Linked DNA regions of Homo sapiens. The protein of the gene in region 1 interacts with the protein of each later gene in a pairwise test. Each region holds a gene or a part of one and is shown on either strand. Other genes may lie near its edges.

Evidence for each region.
Region 2: the proteins of APRT (region 1) and TTC19 interact in binary tests that used the Homo sapiens proteins (3 or more experiments, as listed by UniProt).

The regions. Positions count from the first base shown.
Region 1 is NC_000016.10:88,809,129-88,813,334, reverse strand, and holds APRT (adenine phosphoribosyltransferase), read left to right. Parts: upstream 1-1,406; 5' UTR 1,407-1,435; coding exon 1,436-1,515; intron 1,516-1,678; coding exon 1,679-1,785; intron 1,786-2,778; coding exon 2,779-2,912; intron 2,913-3,186; coding exon 3,187-3,265; intron 3,266-3,494; coding exon 3,495-3,637; 3' UTR 3,638-3,996; downstream 3,997-4,206. UniProt on the Homo sapiens protein: Catalyzes a salvage reaction resulting in the formation of AMP, that is energically less costly than de novo synthesis.
Region 2 is NC_000017.11:15,998,588-16,002,623, reverse strand, and holds the start of TTC19 (tetratricopeptide repeat protein 19, mitochondrial isoform 1 precursor), read right to left. Parts: upstream 2,801-4,036; 5' UTR 2,776-2,800; coding exon 2,592-2,775; intron 2,507-2,591; coding exon 2,379-2,506; exon of another isoform or gene 2,242-2,378; intron 710-2,241; coding exon 599-709; intron 1-598. Other genes in the region: ZSWIM7 (zinc finger SWIM domain-containing protein 7), read left to right, coding at 3,030-3,105. UniProt on the Homo sapiens protein: Required for the preservation of the structural and functional integrity of mitochondrial respiratory complex III by allowing the physiological turnover of the Rieske protein UQCRFS1.

The DNA of each region.
Region 1 (4,206 bases):
ATGTGGCAGCTTCCCCGGGGACGTGAGGATGTCAGGGTCCTCCATTTCCACCTTCCCTAGGGGTCTGGAGCCCAGGCCCCAGGCCTTGCCAGCCCTGACCACCGCACACTGCGAGGCAGCCGCCCCTACCACGCCCCTTGGCATCAGACGATGGGTCCCCCACCCGCCCTGGAACCGGGGCCCCAGCAGCCGCATGCAGCCTCCGGCCTCCCCCTCCGAAGGCTCCTGGGGGCTGCCTTCCACTGAGTGGGTTTTCCCTTCTGCAGTAACTGCCAGGCCAAAGCTGAATTGTAAAAGTTGCGAAATGATGGGCCGGGCGCGGTGGCTCACGCCTGTAATCCCGGCACTTTGGGAGGCCGAAGCGGGCAGATCACGGGGTCAGGAGATCGAGACCATCCTGGCTAACACAGTGAAACTGCGTCTCTACTAAAAATACAAAAAATTAGCAGGGCGTGGTGGCGGGCTCCTGTAGTCCCAGCTACTCGGGAGGCTGAGGCGGGAGAATGGCCGGAACCCAGGAGGTGGAGCTTGCAGTGAGCCCAGATGGCGCCACTGTGCTCCATCCTGGGCGACAGAGCGAGAGTCCTTCTCAAAAAAAAGTTGCGAAATGAAGAAAAGTCTTGGAATAGAGCACAAGGCATTTTAGCTCTGGGGATTTTCTTGAAAGGAAATTGTGTTTGGGGGGAGTTATGCCTCACACAACCCCCTGGGTACCAGTCCTCGGGCGGCCAGGGGGTTCACAGCTCCCCACCCCAAGGCTAAGGGGTCACCTGGCCTCTGCAGGCGGACAGAAGGGCTTCTGCCCTCGCGGATGCGCGCCCTGGCCTGGCCACACCTTCCGGCCTCCCTCCCCCGGGTCCGGGCGGGGAAGAGCCGCCTCAACGGCAGGGCCCATCCGCGAGAGGCCAGCGCCCCCGGCCGGTCCAGCCCAGGCCCGCCGCCTCCGCCCTGGGCTGCTCCCTCCGGGCCCTGCACCGCCCTCCTGCTACTTGGACCGCTTCCTCACGCCCTTCTCCACCCCGCGCGCCAGCCTCCCGCGCGCAGCGTGGGGATCTCGGCCAATAAAGGAGAAAGGGCGCGGCCCGTACGCGCGCCAGGTGCGTGGGCGAGACCAGCTCACGCCCCTCCTCCAGCCGCCAAGGCCCCGGCCCACAGCTGCCTGGCTGCAGTCAGAAGCGTAGCCCGAGACAAGGAAGGGCGCCTTGACTCGCACTTTTGTCCGGTTCGAACGTTCTGCTCAGTGGTGCGTGGAATGCGAGCGCGTCTTAAAATCGATGGCGCCTAGGAGTCCATGAAATACGGTACAGGCTTCCGGCGACGGATGCCCCGCCCCTCACCCACGCTCCGCCCTCCGGGGATGCCCCACCCCTCGTGGCGGTCCCGCCCGTCCCCGCGCAGGCGCGCTCGGGCTGCCGCTGGCTCTTCGCACGCGGCCATGGCCGACTCCGAGCTGCAGCTGGTTGAGCAGCGGATCCGCAGCTTCCCCGACTTCCCCACCCCAGGCGTGGTATTCAGGTGCACGCACAGGCCGCCCTCGTGGCGCCCCGACCTGCGGGCCTACGGATGGGAGCGCGTGGCCCGCGACCTCCGGGCGGGCGGGGCGGGAACCCTCGTCTTTCGCCCCCGGGGCCCTGCCCTCCTTCGGCCCCGGCGTCACCAGGCCTGTCCTTGGGTCCAGGGACATCTCGCCCGTCCTGAAGGACCCCGCCTCCTTCCGCGCCGCCATCGGCCTCCTGGCGCGACACCTGAAGGCGACCCACGGGGGCCGCATCGACTACATCGCAGGCGAGTGCCCAGTGGCCGCATCTAGGGCGCTTCCGCCTCTGCGCGCGCCGAGGGCAGCACGTGGGCTCTGCGCGTCTGCTTGGGGGAGGGCCTTTGGGGTGCTTCAGGGGGCGCCGGGACGGGCGCCGTGCTTGGGTCGCCCGGGAAGGGTTGTGAGATTGAGCCCCCGAGGCCGCCGCGCTGTGCAGGCGTCCTTCCCGCAGGTTCCGGGTCCCCAGCCCAGGACAGGCGTGACCGAGTTGCCGGGTCAGTTGGTCTCCCTGGAGTGCCCAAGCTGAATCCACAGGGCCCAGCTGCCTTGCTTCTTGTTCCTTCTGCGAGCTGGTATTGAGCGCCTGCCACGAGCCAGGCCTTCCCTGGTGAAGATCACGGAATGCCCACCCAGGGAAGGGAGGCCTGGAGGCCTCCGGGAGAGCCCAAGAGGTGGCCCAGGGAGAACAGAGTGTTCCTGGCCGTCTTGCCTCTCCTAGGGTGTGACAGCCCACTCCCTGGACACTGCCCTGAGGAAAGCGCCAGCTCTTGCTGGAGCCACAACACTGCCAGAGCTCCCTTCTCACCTCCTGCAGGAAGCCCTCCCTGACCTCCTGCCAGGCCGGGGCAGGGTTTCCCTGAGCGTCCCCCAACCATCACAGCTCAGGCCACCTCGAGAGACTCCCTTTTTAGACAGAAGCCCTGGTGCAGAGCTGCCTTTGAGAGTAAGCTGAGGCCTGTCAGGTTTCTACCAGCCCAGTTACAGATGGGCTGCTCAGCTCAGAGAGAGGGGTGGTGACTCCCCTAGGAACACACAGCTAAGAAGTGGTCCCTTAAAAGACAGACCCAGGTCTGCACTCTGACCTGGAAGCAGCTCCGGGTAGGTGATGGGTAACATTCCTTAAATGGTGCATGTCACTGGCCTTTCAGCTGGGAGCCAACCAGGTACCCCTTGCCACCGGCCAACCCTGGCCCCTGGGGATTCCCATGCTGCCGAGTCACTCCTGTCACTTACCCTGACAGGCCTAGACTCCCGAGGCTTCCTCTTTGGCCCCTCCCTGGCCCAGGAGCTTGGACTGGGCTGCGTGCTCATCCGAAAGCGGGGGAAGCTGCCAGGCCCCACTCTGTGGGCCTCCTATTCCCTGGAGTACGGGAAGGTAAGAGGGCTGGGGTGGCCAGAGGAAGGGCAGGGCCAGGCCACCGTGGCCACTCTCCCCCAGTTCTAAAAGGCCTTCCCAGGCGTGTCAAGTGGAGCTGCTGTGGTTACAGTGGCCTTGGGAGCTCAGAGAGGTTGAGACATAGGCTGGGCTCACACAGCCAGGTAACAGCAAGGTGGGGTTGGAGTCAGGGTCTAGGGTGGCAGCTGCCAAGCTGTGCAACAAAGCTGTTTTCTGCGGGAGGCTGAGGACCACACACCACTTCCCACTCCAGGCTGAGCTGGAGATTCAGAAAGACGCCCTGGAGCCAGGACAGAGGGTGGTCGTCGTGGATGATCTGCTGGCCACTGGTGGTAAGGGTCTCCCCGCAGCCAACTGCTGTGGCTCCAAGGGCCTGGTGGGAGTGGGACAGGACCTCGCTGTGTGACATGGGATGCAGCTTACTGTTGTCCAGAGGGTGCCTGGTGGCCAGGCCGACACCTTCCTCTCCCCATGCCTTCCCCTCCCCAACCCAGGGGCTGGCCTGGAGCACCTGCTCTCTGCAGCCCAGGCCAACTGGGGACCTCACCCTCCCATCCCCAGGAACCATGAACGCTGCCTGTGAGCTGCTGGGCCGCCTGCAGGCTGAGGTCCTGGAGTGCGTGAGCCTGGTGGAGCTGACCTCGCTTAAGGGCAGGGAGAAGCTGGCACCTGTACCCTTCTTCTCTCTCCTGCAGTATGAGTGACCACAGGGCCTCCCAGCCCAACATCTCCAGCTGGATCCCAGGGAAATATCAGCCTTGGGCAACTGCAGTGACCAGGGGCACCGGCTGCCCACAGGGAACACATTCCTTTGCTGGGGTTCAGCGCCTCTCCTGGGGCTGGAAGTGCCAAAGCCTGGGGCAAAGCTGTGTTTCAGCCACACTGAACCCAATTACACACAGCGGGAGAACGCAGTAAACAGCTTTCCCACAAGAGCCGTCTCCTGTCCTCCTGTTCCCCAGGGCAGGGAGCCCCAGGACAACACCAGACTTCAGCTGTACTGTGGGCATGTGCTGCTTGGCGTGATGCCCAGCAGAACCTGTCCTGGTTCTCACCTCAGGAGCTAGAACCCTCCAGGCACTGCAGGAAGAGGCCATGTGGGCCCATCTTCTAGGGGAGCAAGCGAGGGCTCTTCTGCAGATCTAGTGGCTGTAAGCATGACTTTATTAGAGTTTAGGAGGTCAGAAATACTGAAGTCAAGGTGTGGGCAGAGGCCAGTCCCTTCTGGAGGCTCCAGGGATGTCCTACTTGTCCTGCCCAGCTTCTCCAGGCT
Region 2 (4,036 bases), on another chromosome or scaffold:
AGAATTAAATACTTGCACATACTTTGTTGTTAACAAACCAAATCTAGGTCCACTCATCATTAAAAAAACATGCTAATGATACTGGTTTTTTTTGGTCTGGAATTGAGAGGTCTTATGTCACCCCAAGGGTAAAAAAACTGAAGCTGTGGCCGGGCGTGGTGGCTCATGCCTGAAATCTCAGCACTTTGGGAGGCCAAGGCAGGTGGATCACCTGAGATCAGGAGTTCGAGACCAGCCTGGCCAATATGGTGAAACCTCGTCTCTACTACAATACAAAATTTAGCCAGGCATAGTGATGCATGCCTGTAATCCAGCTACTCGGGAGGGTGAGGCAAAAGAATCGTCTGAACTCATGAGGCGGAGGCTGCAGTGAGCCAAGATTGTGCCACTGCACTGCAGCCTGGGCAACAGAGTGAGGCTCCATCTCAAAAAAACAAAACAAAACAAAAAATGAAACTGAAGCCAAAAGAAAACTCAGTAAAAAGAAAAGGAGTTTTAGAACATCGTGAAAGTCAGGAATATAAATCAGAAGAACTAACTACCCTTCCCTCCCATCCAACCTTCCTCATCAGTGGTTCAGACTGGTTATAAGAGTTACCAAATCATAAGTGTAAGTGATGGCCTTCTTGTTATCAGTCTGATAGGCGAGACGAAGAGCGTCATGCAAAATTAACTCAGCCTCTTCTGGCTCATCTTTCATAATGCTCAACTGAAAAGGGAAGACAAAATAATAGAAAATGAAACATATAGTAGATGCATATGCTAAGAGACAGAAGTGTATGCAACTGTACATCCCAACTGATAGAAGGAAGCTAACTCATTCATCAGACATTTACTGAATTCCTACTATGTACAAAGCATTGTCTACAGAGATGACAGGGAGGTCAGCCTCCCTTGCAGCTAGGTGTGGCCATCTGATGAAGTTTTGGCCAAGAGACACAGGCAGAAGGAATGTGATCTTACAACATATTTTATAAGGAAGCTGCTTGTCCTCCATCCTCTTTCTAATTTCTTGCAGGCTGGAGGTGACCATATAGGACAAGTAAGCTTAATTACAACTAATGATAAGAGCTATAAAGATGACAGAAAGGAATGATAAGGGGTCTCCTCTAAATAGGACTTAGGGAAGCCTTCCAAGGAAGTGACAGCTAAACTGAGGTAGTAAGGATGAGAATGAGTCAACCAAATAAGGACCTGGGGAGAACAATGACTCAAACAGAGGGTAGAGAATGAGTGAAGTCCCTACAAGCTGAAGAGAATGGTTTTGAGGAAGAAATGCAAAGAAATAGATGTGAAGGGAGGATGGTGAGCCAGAGGATTACTGCCAAATGGGTGGGCAAGGTATATGCTGGTTTAGATCATGTGGGGTGTTGCAAGCCAAGGCAAGGAGTTTGTATTTTATCATAAATGCAGTGGGTAGCCATTCAGAGCTTTCTGACAAGGAGATGACATAATCCAATTTACTCTTTTTTTTTTTGGTCGCTTTGGTTTCTGCATGGAGAATAGATTGCAAGAGGCCAGGAGGCCAGGAAAGACTACTGGAGCATAGTTGGTGGCAATGATGGTTTGCACTAGGGTGACAGCAAGGGAGATAGACAAAAGGGGAAAGATTTGAGAAATATTTTGCATTTGTTGGCAACAGGACTTGTTGCTGGACTGTAAGTGTATTGGAAGGCAATGGTAAGGTACCACAAGTTTTAAGAATGACTATGAGGTTTTTAGGCTGAAAAACTGATGGTAGTAAAGAGATGGCGAAAGCGTATGTTGAGGAGGCATTAAAGATCGTTTAGTTTTGGGCATGTTAAATCTGAGAGGTAGGTATGGTCCTAAAGTGCAAATGGCATGTCAGTAGCACACTACAGAATGGAAATACAAATTTGGACGTTGTTGGCATCGAGTAGGTATTTAGCTCAATGGAAGAGATGAGATAACTTGGGAAAAGAGGAGGAAAAAAAAATAGAAAAGGATGTGGAGAAAAGGAAGAATTCAGGAGGAGAACCGAACCGCATAACCAACACTAAGTTGCCATTTTCAGGCCGCTATATACGTGCGAAATTATGTCATTTCAGATAGGCTGGTTAATTGATAAAACCACTACAAAACGTTCCCGATATTTCGTTTGCATAAAGCGTGATGCCTAGGGCGCCATCTCCATTTGCACTTGACACTGCAGAGGTTTTACTGCAGGCCTTAGAGTCGGAAAAGCCTGGATGGATTCCAATCCCCTCTCGGATGACCCACCTCATTCTCGGCAATTTTACCCGCGGAGCCTCCATCCACTCTTCGGCGAGGCGGAGAGAGTAATGCGCAGCAACGCCAAGACCCCGCTCACAAAGGCTACCGCGCTCGGCCGGGCGCAGGGCCCGGAGCCGCCTCACCTTGGCTCGCTTCAGCAGCTGGATGATCTCTGCCTCGGCCTCGTCCGCCCCGTCCTCGGCAGCGGCCCCGTCGGCTCCCTGCTGCTCCTCCTCCTCTGCCGCAGCGGGCCTCGAGAACCAGGCGAGCGCTGCGGGAAGGGGCTCTGAGGTCATCGGGCCCGGCCCGCGCCCCTGTCCCCGCCCGGCCGGCCCCGCCCGGCCCGCGCCCCTCACCTGCCAGCAGCGGCAGCAGGCCTGGGCCCCGGCCGTGCGGCGCGACTCGGGATGGCGGCACCTGCACCTCGGGCCCCGGACCTCCTGCCAGCCCCGGGAGCAGGCGCGCGGAGCAGCCCCGGCACCGCCGCCCCGCGGCCCGCAGGAAGCCTCGGCCCAGGCTCCAGCTCAGGAGCCGGAACATGCTCCCGCCGCGTCCTCTGCGCACTGCAGGCCAGACGCGCTCCTGGCCCCCGACCACGCGCCGAGCGCCCTCCGGATTGGCCGGGCCCTGACGACTGAGCAGGACATCCCTGCGTCCGCACGCGCGATGACGCGCCCCGACGTCACTCCGTCTCGCCCTGCCCCGGCGGGGGGTCAGGATCCTCCACAGGTAGGCGCAGTCAGCTGGAGCGTCGCGGCGGTCCGCCGGTCGTGGAGGGCGTGTCCTGCGGCGCGATGGCCGTAGTGTTGCCGGCGGTTGTGGAGGAGCTCCTGAGCGAGATGGCGGCGGCGGTGCAGGAGAGCGCGCGAAGTACGGGACCGAGGTCGTGTGTGGCTGCGCCATGGGCGCGGGCGGGGCATCCGGGCACCGCCGGGCCGGGAGGCAGGAGGCGGGGTGTCCGGGCCTGGCCCTGCCTTTTTTCCATGTGGTTCTCTAAACCTCTTGTTCGTAAAAAGACAAAAAAACAAAACAACAAAAAAGCGAAATTGGAACAAGTAAAAGTCAAATCGATTCAGCAAATATTTACGGTACAGCGCAGTTGCAGGAGCCCCTCCGTCGGAGCGAGTAGGCCAGTGGGGACCGAAGTGCTGAGAGCTGGCCGGGTCGCTGGGAGGGGTCCCCGCCCGGGGGTGGAAGGGACGGGAGCCTACAGTGAGTGATAGAAACGTGGAGTTCTTGATTATTTTACACGAAATTTTGAATTATTAAACTTCTTTTTCTCAAATTCTGATGTTAACATTAAAGTTAATGCTTCCATACACTTTAAAAAGTAGGCCCAGCGCAGTGGCTCACTCCCGTAATCCCAGCACTTTGGGAGGCCGAGGCAGTTGGATTACCTAAGGTCAGGAGTTCGAGACCAGCCTGGCCAACATGGTGAAACTTCGTCTCTACTAAAAATACAAAAAATTAGCTGGGCGTGGTGGCGGGCGCCTGTAATTCCAGCTACTCAGGAGGCTGAGGCAGGAGAATCGCTTGAACCCGGGAGGCGGAGGTTGCCGTGAGCCGAGATCGCGCCATTGCACTCCAGCCTGGGCAACAAGAGCGAAATTCCATCTCAAAAAAAAAAAAAAAAGCATTTTAAGAGCCACAAAACCTAAATGCATATGCAATCGTTGGAGTAAATCTGGGTATTGTGAAAGCACCATTTTTTTTCTGACCAGCAGAGGGTACTCTTTGGCTATGCTCACCAAAATCACTTGAGAAGGGTTGATCTCAAGATGTGTTCAGAGTATGCTAGGAT